2 separate regions of the Homo sapiens genome follow, and region 1 is reported to be linked to region 2. Evidence: microRNA targets listed by miRTarBase, many of them from high-throughput screens and not tested one by one. Region 2 holds a microRNA gene; the other region holds the end of a gene's coding sequence.
Evidence for each region. The annotated mature microRNA hsa-miR-6807-5p reads GUGAGCCAGUGGAAUGGAGAGG and lies in region 2 at 2,159-2,180, shown strand. An mRNA with a match to its seed (bases 2 to 7 or 8) in the 3' UTR can be bound and repressed. Matches are read on the target gene's strand: a 7mer-m8 pairs with bases 2 to 8, a 7mer-A1 pairs with bases 2 to 7 and ends in A, and an 8mer does both.

Region 1: miRTarBase lists UACA as a target of hsa-miR-6807-5p. Seed matches in the 3' UTR shown: 7mer-m8 at 2,264-2,270.

The regions. Positions count from the first base shown.
Region 1 is chr15:70,653,512-70,657,778 of GRCh38, reverse strand. It overlaps UACA (uveal autoantigen with coiled-coil domains and ankyrin repeats), which reads left to right. Exons shown (of 19, transcript NM_018003.4): 19 at 652-3,225. The coding sequence ends at 723. Among named protein-coding and RNA genes, the nearest start is that of SALRNA2, 20 kb to the right of the region's middle.
Region 2 is chr19:58,548,127-58,552,126 of GRCh38, forward strand. It overlaps MIR6807 (microRNA 6807), which reads left to right and starts at 2,159; the gene lies at 2,159-2,250. It overlaps TRIM28 (tripartite motif containing 28), which reads left to right. Exons shown (of 17, transcript NM_005762.3): 7 at 1-54; 8 at 168-282; 9 at 360-466; 10 at 614-650; 11 at 736-784; 12 at 862-1,114; 13 at 1,205-1,524; 14 at 1,611-1,734; 15 at 1,823-1,909; 16 at 2,021-2,158; 17 at 2,251-2,589. The coding sequence ends at 2,427. It overlaps CHMP2A (charged multivesicular body protein 2A), which reads right to left. Exons shown (of 6, transcript NM_014453.4): 4 at 3,929-4,000; 5 at 3,780-3,841; 6 at 3,440-3,650. The coding sequence ends at 3,523.

The sequences.
Region 1 (4,267 bases), not on the chromosome of region 2:
ACAAACAAAAAACCTCAGCAGCAACAACAACAGATTTCCTTGTAGTTTACTTTGTTCATTTATAACTTATGCTGCCCCTATCATCCAAGGCTGTTATTAAAAAAGAGAAAGAGGGAGGTTTATCCATTTGTTTTCTGGTAATGGAAGTTAGAGCAGCTGTTGTGCACTAGTCTTTTTGTTTTTTCAGATGGGGTCTCGCCATGTCACCCAGGCTGGAGTGCAGTGCCACAATCTTGGTTCGCTGCAACCTCTGCCTCCCAGGTTCCAGCGATTCTCCTGTCTCAGCCTCCCGAGTAGCTGGGATTACACCCGTCTAATTTTTATATTTTTACCAGAGATGGGGTTTCGCCATGTTGGCCAGGCTGGTCTCGAACTCCTGACCTCAAATGATCCACCCACCTCAGCCTCCCAAAGTGCTGGGATTGCAGGCGTGAGCCACCACGCCCGGCCGTGCACTCCTTATTAATTGATCTTATTTTCATGATAGGGCTGTACTCCCTTTTCCAGTAATTCCTTTAGAAATCACAATGATGAGGATTTAGCATTTGATGAATCAATGACTAGTTATGCTCTGTAAAAGCTTTATCTTTAGAATTCTTATGTAAACAAAGATGACATAAAATAATGCTCCTCTTTCTTCTTTCTCCGAAGGGTCACATGGATGAAGATGTTCAGGAGGCTCTGCTCCAGATCATACAAATGCGGCAGGGGCTTGTGTGCTAGCCGTTAGCACTGACTGCCAGTATCTGTTTTATCTTGCTGGTGCTGAACATTCTTTGTGCAACTCCATGGTCTTTCTGGGCCTTACTGTGCTGGTATAATTAAAATAAAATATATTTTGTTCTATTGGTAGGTTTTTTTTTAAAATTAGATGAATATGTTAGTCTTTTTCAATATCAGTTTGAATCTTATTTTCTGTATGTGTTAATTTTACAAATAGGCAAACAACATAACTTTGCCCTGGATTGACTACATATTTTTAAACCTTCAAGTCCCTAATAAAACATGAGCCATCTGAGTGAGTCCATATGAAGCGAGGTTAGGCTGAAATAATTGCTTAAAGATGTCTTTCAGAGAAATTAATTTGGTTGGTGGCCACTTTTAGGTGGATCAAAAGACCTTTCAGATCCTCAGAACCTTGAGACATAATACAGTTGTGAGGAATGTGTTGTAACTTGGCTGGCCAAGTTACATGTTACAGTATCTTTACTGAGGTAACTTCATTAGTGTCTTTGGCCTTTTTTGTAGGTATAGATATTTTTTCTTTTTACACTAATAACTTTTATGCCTTTTAAAATAAATTTATTTTCATAAATGGTTTGCAGTGCTAAATTACATTTAGATTAAGAACAGGCAGGGGTGGAATATATCAGGAATTTATAATAAAATTGCCTTAATCTCTACAACAGTATCTTAATTTTTACTTGCGGTGACTATTCTTGCCACAATATTGGAGAATAATGATAGATGATATACTAGATTTTTCAAAGTGTGAAAACCTTTAGACTTTTTTTAGCAATTAGTTTGACATTCGCTACTATAGTAACCAAGCACTCATTATATATGCATCCTCCAAATGTTTCATGCTTATTTATAGGAAAGTTATATTAATGAGATTAATAATGTGAAATACAGTTTTCCTGCAAAATTAGCATTAGAGAATTGATTTTAGATAACAGATTTTTAAAGTTTTAGAGAAAAGTACAGTAATACAGTAAACTGAAAGAGTATATAGATAGCAATAAAATAACATAAGTGGACATGTTTATAGTAAATACTCTGAAGTAAACAACCGTTTTTATTAACTGCATCTCATTAGGGAAAGTTTATATGTCTTGTTATTTTTTATTAACATTTTATTTACCATTCAGAGTGAAAATTACTAATTTGAGTATTAACAAATAACTGAATAAATGGATCATTACAGTTAGGTTTTCTCAAATTGCAAAATTTGCCTTAGCAATTATCTTTGAACATCCCGAACCAGATTTTTAAATCCCATTTTTGTTTAATAGGGTAAAAATACCATCAAAATGACTTCTCATACCAAAGAATAAGCCATCATATTTTTTCGGTGTTGAAACAACATTGAAAGTCAGAATTGGATTTGTTTTTAATTCTTTATACGGTTTACATAAGCAATATCTGTCTCTTTAATTATTATGATTAATGTCGTCCTTCAGCATGAGTTCTGTTTCACAAGTTTTGGGCCACCTATTTCAATAAAAAATAAAATATAAATTAAAAAAGTTGCCGGGGGTGGTGGCTCATGCCTGTAATCCCAGCACTTTGGGAGGCTGAGGGAGGTAGATCACCTGAGGTCAGAAGTTCGAGACCAGCCTTACCAATATGGTGAAGCCCCATCTCTACTAAAAATACAAAAATTAGCCCTGCATGGTGGCAGGTGCCTGTAGTCCCAGGTACTCGGGAGGCTGAGACAGGAGAATCGCTTGAACCTGGGAGGCGGAGGTTGCAGTGAGCCAAGATCTCGCCACTGCACTCCAGCTTGGGCAATAGCAAGACTCCATCTCAAAATAAAATAAAATAAAACTTAGAGCAAAGTTTAAAACTGAGTATTCATATTAAGTGTTTTATTTTCCATATTAGAGATGGGAAGGGAACCTTATGTGTATTTTATTTTGTTTTCAACCATCAATAAAGTTTTCTCTAGAATATTGTTTTGAACATCCTTGTAAAAGATTTGCGAGTTAAACTATTTTATTTACTGTCTGTGAGAGCATTGGGAGTAGGAAACGATGGACTCCAAAGTACAAGGGAGAATACCCATTTTCATTCAGCTATCTGGAGTAAAATATCAAGTACTTCCTTCAACTAATCTTGTCTCATTCACTCACCTTTTGATATCGAAGGCAGAAATTGCGTTTACAACACTGAAGACCAAAGCTTTTTAATTAGTAAACAAGCGGAACATAGATAATGGACAATGCTGGCCACTGCCATTCTGTGTTCAGAAAGACTATGAGACCTGAACATATGGCCAAGAGGAAAGAAGAGTGACGTTGTCTAAGATGTAATGAGTGCTCTCTGAGAGAATCACTCAATTCCTATTGGAGTGCAATCCTTACTTGAGAACTTTATTACTCTTGTTCTGTGTAGTTTTTTTTTTTTGTCACTTCCCCATCAGAAAAGCATATTCTTTTTGATAGAGGGTCAGTGTTATAAATAATTGTCTTTTGAAATAAAATCAAATATTCATGCATTGAACATCTTAAATCTTTAATATTATGGTGACTATAATCACTTAACTGTATCAGCATTGTTCTAGAATTCCAGATGAATTTAGCTTTGTCTTTTTTATGGCTTTTTAGTTGAACCTTTTCTCTTGACCCTAACCAAATTTTATAGTTTACAATTTTCTACTCTTCTTATAAATGCATTGGCTCATTGCTGCTTTAAAAATCTTGTAGCTTTAGAACATGAGCATTTTTTTTCTCCAGTGTTATCAGCTTTCCTCTGACAAGGAAGGACCTAAAAACTATTCTCACACATGTGCTTGTTACCCTACCTGAATGTTCATGTCTTTGACCGACTCGTTTCAAAGTAAAAAAGGGAAGAGTTTCTAGTTAATTTTTGGTGTTCATGGTGACTAGATACATCAGTGCCTGCTTGCAGGAGTGCCAGACCCTAGCAGTGGTTACAAGCTTCTTTTGACATCTGCTTCACCATGGTAGAAGACAGTTACTTCTTATTGCCTCTGTTTTCATCACTGGATTCTGCAACCTTGCGATCTTTTTTCTTGTTGGTTCTGTGCACCAAAGTAATGGTAGCTCCTCTGGCACCAAAATACGGGTTGAAAGAGAATGCCTGTGATGAACATGAAAGATGTGGCTGACCTAGATCTTACCCTTGGCCCCTAAGTTTTATGAATAAGTTCAGAGGGAGGATAAAAAGCACTGGAGAAGTAAAGGCAGAATTTGCACCATAAAATAGATTGTGCACAAAATACGAAATGAAAATTAGTATAGACATTTCAACTGTCATTTCATTCAGTGTTGTTCCCCGCTAAACTGGAAACTGAACCTGAGACTGTTGCTGGAAATTCAGTTCTTTCCCGTGTTTTGATCTTAGCTATTTGAAACAGGACTCTTTAGACCAGCCTCTCCAGGTAAATATTAACCTGCTTCTTAGCATGGTTTCTGATTATTACTGAATATATTGACCTTTGGGCTCAAGTGAGTAATGAATGTACAGATTTTTTTTTTTTTTTTTTTTTTTTTAAAGATCAAGCTGTATCAGCGATGGCATT
Region 2 (4,000 bases):
TCTTGGGCTCTGGAGAGTGACAACAACACAGCCCTTTTGCTTTCTAAGAAGTTGGTGTGTACTGGTGGGCTCCTGGCTGGTGGGTTCCAGGCAGGTGGTTCCCAATACCTCAAATCCCTATTTGTTGTTGGTGTGCTCATTCTTTCCTCCCTTTCACTCCCAACCAGATCTACTTCCAGCTGCACCGGGCCCTCAAGATGATTGTGGATCCCGTGGAGCCACATGGCGAGATGAAGTTTCAGTGGGACCTCAATGCCTGGACCAAGAGTGCCGAGGCCTTTGGTGGGTCCCCAGCTTTACCTCACTCTGTTATTACCCCACGTGCTGCACCTACTTACGTTTCTCTCTTCTTTTTGCAGGCAAGATTGTGGCAGAGCGTCCTGGCACTAACTCAACAGGCCCTGCACCCATGGCCCCTCCAAGAGCCCCAGGGCCCCTGAGCAAGCAGGGCTCTGGCAGCAGCCAGGTGAGCAGGAGAGAGGACCCAGGAAGGGGTGGGCAGGGAATGGGGTCCAGTAGCAGGAGAGAGGACCCAGGCAGGGGGGGTGGGCAGGGAATGGGGTCCAGTAGGGTTCCTGTCCCACTGAGGCAGAGGGTTCTGCTTTGTTCACAGCCCATGGAGGTGCAGGAAGGCTATGGCTTTGGGTCAGGTGAGTGGGTCTGCCTAGTGGGTGGGGAAGGGCCCCAGTGCTGTTTCTACCCCAACCTGCCAGTCTTCTTTCTCCATTTTCTAAGGAGATGATCCCTACTCAAGTGCAGAGCCCCATGTGTCAGGTGTGAAACGGTAAGTATGGCACCTCCCCTGGGGGTGAGGTGGATGGAGGGTGGGGGTGTACTCATGCCAGGTTGCTGCATCTACAGGTCCCGCTCAGGTGAGGGCGAGGTGAGCGGCCTTATGCGCAAGGTGCCACGAGTGAGCCTTGAACGCCTGGACCTGGACCTCACAGCTGACAGCCAGCCACCCGTCTTCAAGGTCTTCCCAGGCAGTACCACTGAGGACTACAACCTTATTGTTATTGAACGTGGCGCTGCCGCTGCAGCTACCGGCCAGCCAGGGACTGCGCCTGCAGGAACCCCTGGTGCCCCACCCCTGGCTGGCATGGCCATTGTCAAGGTAAGCCTGTCCCAAGGAACTATAGCTGTAGGATGAAGCCTGTAGTCCAGGTCTGGACCCTGTTGAACACCCCTCATCACCACCTTGCAGGAGGAGGAGACGGAGGCTGCCATTGGAGCCCCTCCTACTGCCACTGAGGGCCCTGAGACCAAACCTGTGCTTATGGCTCTTGCGGAGGGTCCTGGTGCTGAGGGTCCCCGCCTGGCCTCACCTAGTGGCAGCACCAGCTCAGGGCTGGAGGTGGTGGCTCCTGAGGGTACCTCAGCCCCAGGTGGTGGCCCGGGAACCCTGGATGACAGTGCCACCATTTGCCGTGTCTGCCAGAAGCCAGGCGATCTGGTTATGTGCAACCAGTGTGAGTTTTGTTTCCACCTGGACTGTCACCTGCCGGCCCTGCAGGATGTACCAGGGTGAGTGTGAGGCTGGTGGGGGTCAAGTCTGGGTGTTGGGCTGTCTGGACAGGATCATGTGCAGACCCTTATTTTCTTCACCCTAGGGAGGAGTGGAGCTGCTCACTCTGCCATGTGCTCCCTGACCTGAAGGAGGAGGATGGCAGCCTCAGCCTGGATGGTGCAGACAGCACTGGCGTGGTGGCCAAGCTCTCACCAGCCAACCAGCGGGTGAGGGCTGGGGTTACTTAGGTGGGGTTGCCCAGAGAGGCTTTATAGGTGCTGCCCAGAGCTGTGACATCCCTTACAATGTTTGTAGAAATGTGAGCGTGTACTGCTGGCCCTATTCTGTCACGAACCCTGCCGCCCCCTGCATCAGCTGGCTACCGACTCCACCTTCTCCCTGGTGAGTCCTAGGATGGGAAAGGGGAAGGGGGTGGTGGCTGCTGGGTCTCGCCCTCAACCTGTGCATGTATATGTGTGTCTTTGTGTGTGTATGTGTGATCTCTGCCTGCAGGACCAGCCCGGTGGCACCCTGGATCTGACCCTGATCCGTGCCCGCCTCCAGGAGAAGTTGTCACCTCCCTACAGCTCCCCACAGGAGTTTGCCCAGGATGTGGGCCGCATGTTCAAGCAATTCAACAAGTTAACTGAGGTGAGCCAGTGGAATGGAGAGGCTGTGGGCAGGGGGAGATGTGAAGGAAAGAACTAGGACCCATTCATCCACTGCATTCCTGCTTGGCCCAGGACAAGGCAGACGTGCAGTCCATCATCGGCCTGCAGCGCTTCTTCGAGACGCGCATGAACGAGGCCTTCGGTGACACCAAGTTCTCTGCTGTGCTGGTGGAGCCCCCGCCGATGAGCCTGCCTGGTGCTGGCCTGAGTTCCCAGGAGCTGTCTGGTGGCCCTGGTGATGGCCCCTGAGGCTGGAGCCCCCATGGCCAGCCCAGCCTGGCTCTGTTCTCTGTCCTGTCACCCCATCCCCACTCCCCTGGTGGCCTGACTCCCACTCCCTGGTGGCCCCATCCCCCAGTTCCTCACGATATGGTTTTTACTTCTGTGGATTTAATAAAAACTTCACCAGTTCCTCAGGCGTTGGCTGGTTGGGGGACTGTGGTCCTGGGGCCTGGTTTATTGACTGTATCTACTAGTCAGCCTTATCAAGCACTGGTGGCACAAGGGAGGGGGGTCTTGTCCCCCACCTATCGAAGCCCATGTGTATGGATGCCTAGGGAGTGGGGAAGACTGCCTCCTTGCCCTTTCTGGGTATGGGGAGGGTCACCCAGGGCAAAGGATGTACACACTAGAGGCTTGTTGGGTACCCTGTGGGATACTGGGTAGGTGTGACCTACATCCCTGTGTAGGCAGGGTTAGCCCCAGGTGTAGCACAGCCACTCTACTGAATGCTTCCTAAATTTTGGTGCTGTAGCTGTTTCTCATCTTCAGAAGGTCCCACAGTGAACTGAGACCTTCCAGATGTGGTTTTTTTCCCTGTCTCCCTTTGCTGAGTCCACTTAACATTATCATTCATCTCTGTGTTATGATTTAGTTACTCTACAGTCGAGCCTGTGTGAATCCCAAGGCCACCCCCTTGCCTCTATTGGTTGGTCTGGACTGTCCTTGAGTGTTGTCATTAAACCATCACTGGACCAAACAGTGTTGGACACTACAGCCTGGCAGATGAGGCCTGGACTCTCAAGATCCTACCAGGGTGTTTGGGCAGTCCAGTATCTTGGGAGAGGTGATGGAGAAGGGCCCACAGCTCACCTGAAGCTCCCAGCTCCTGAAAATCCCAGGTGGACTTTGCTTGTTCACCCCTGCCCCAAACCCCCACCCTTAGCTTAGTACCAAGTGCCTCTTGCCTTAGTGATGCCCATCCTCCCAGGGACCCCAGTCTGGTCCCACATCAGGCCAAAAGTCACATGGGCCTGGAGACTAGTGTCAAATCTCTTTTATTACAGAGGGGTTGTGGTAAAAGATCCTGGGCATCCACTGGTTATCTCGGAGTGGCAGGGGCACTCAGTCCCTCCGCAGGTTCTTAAGCCGTTCCTCCAGGTCTGCATCAGCATCAGCTAGGGCTGAGGCTGCGGCCTCTGCTTTTTTCCCACCAGCAGCCACACTAAGCGAGCCCCCAGTTGAGGGGAGGTCTGCAGAGAAAGTGGGGGTTTGAGCAGGTGGGGTCAGGCAGCGGAGGGGAGTAATGCAGGGAAAGGGAGGGCTTGGAGCTGTGGCTGGGCCTTGGGTGGGAAATGGGGTCCAGGATTTGGAGCACTCACTCGACAGCTCATCTGTTAGGCTAAGTCCCAGCTCATCCAGAACCTGGGACACCACAGCATCACTAGGGAAGAGAGAGAACTCAGTGAGGGCTATGCACTCCGTGAGGGCCAGGCAAACATCTCCACCCTCCCATCCAGTTTCCCCATACCTCTCCTCTTCATCTTCCTCATCACCCATGGCATCATCAATGGCATCATTCATCATCTCCTCCTTCATATCC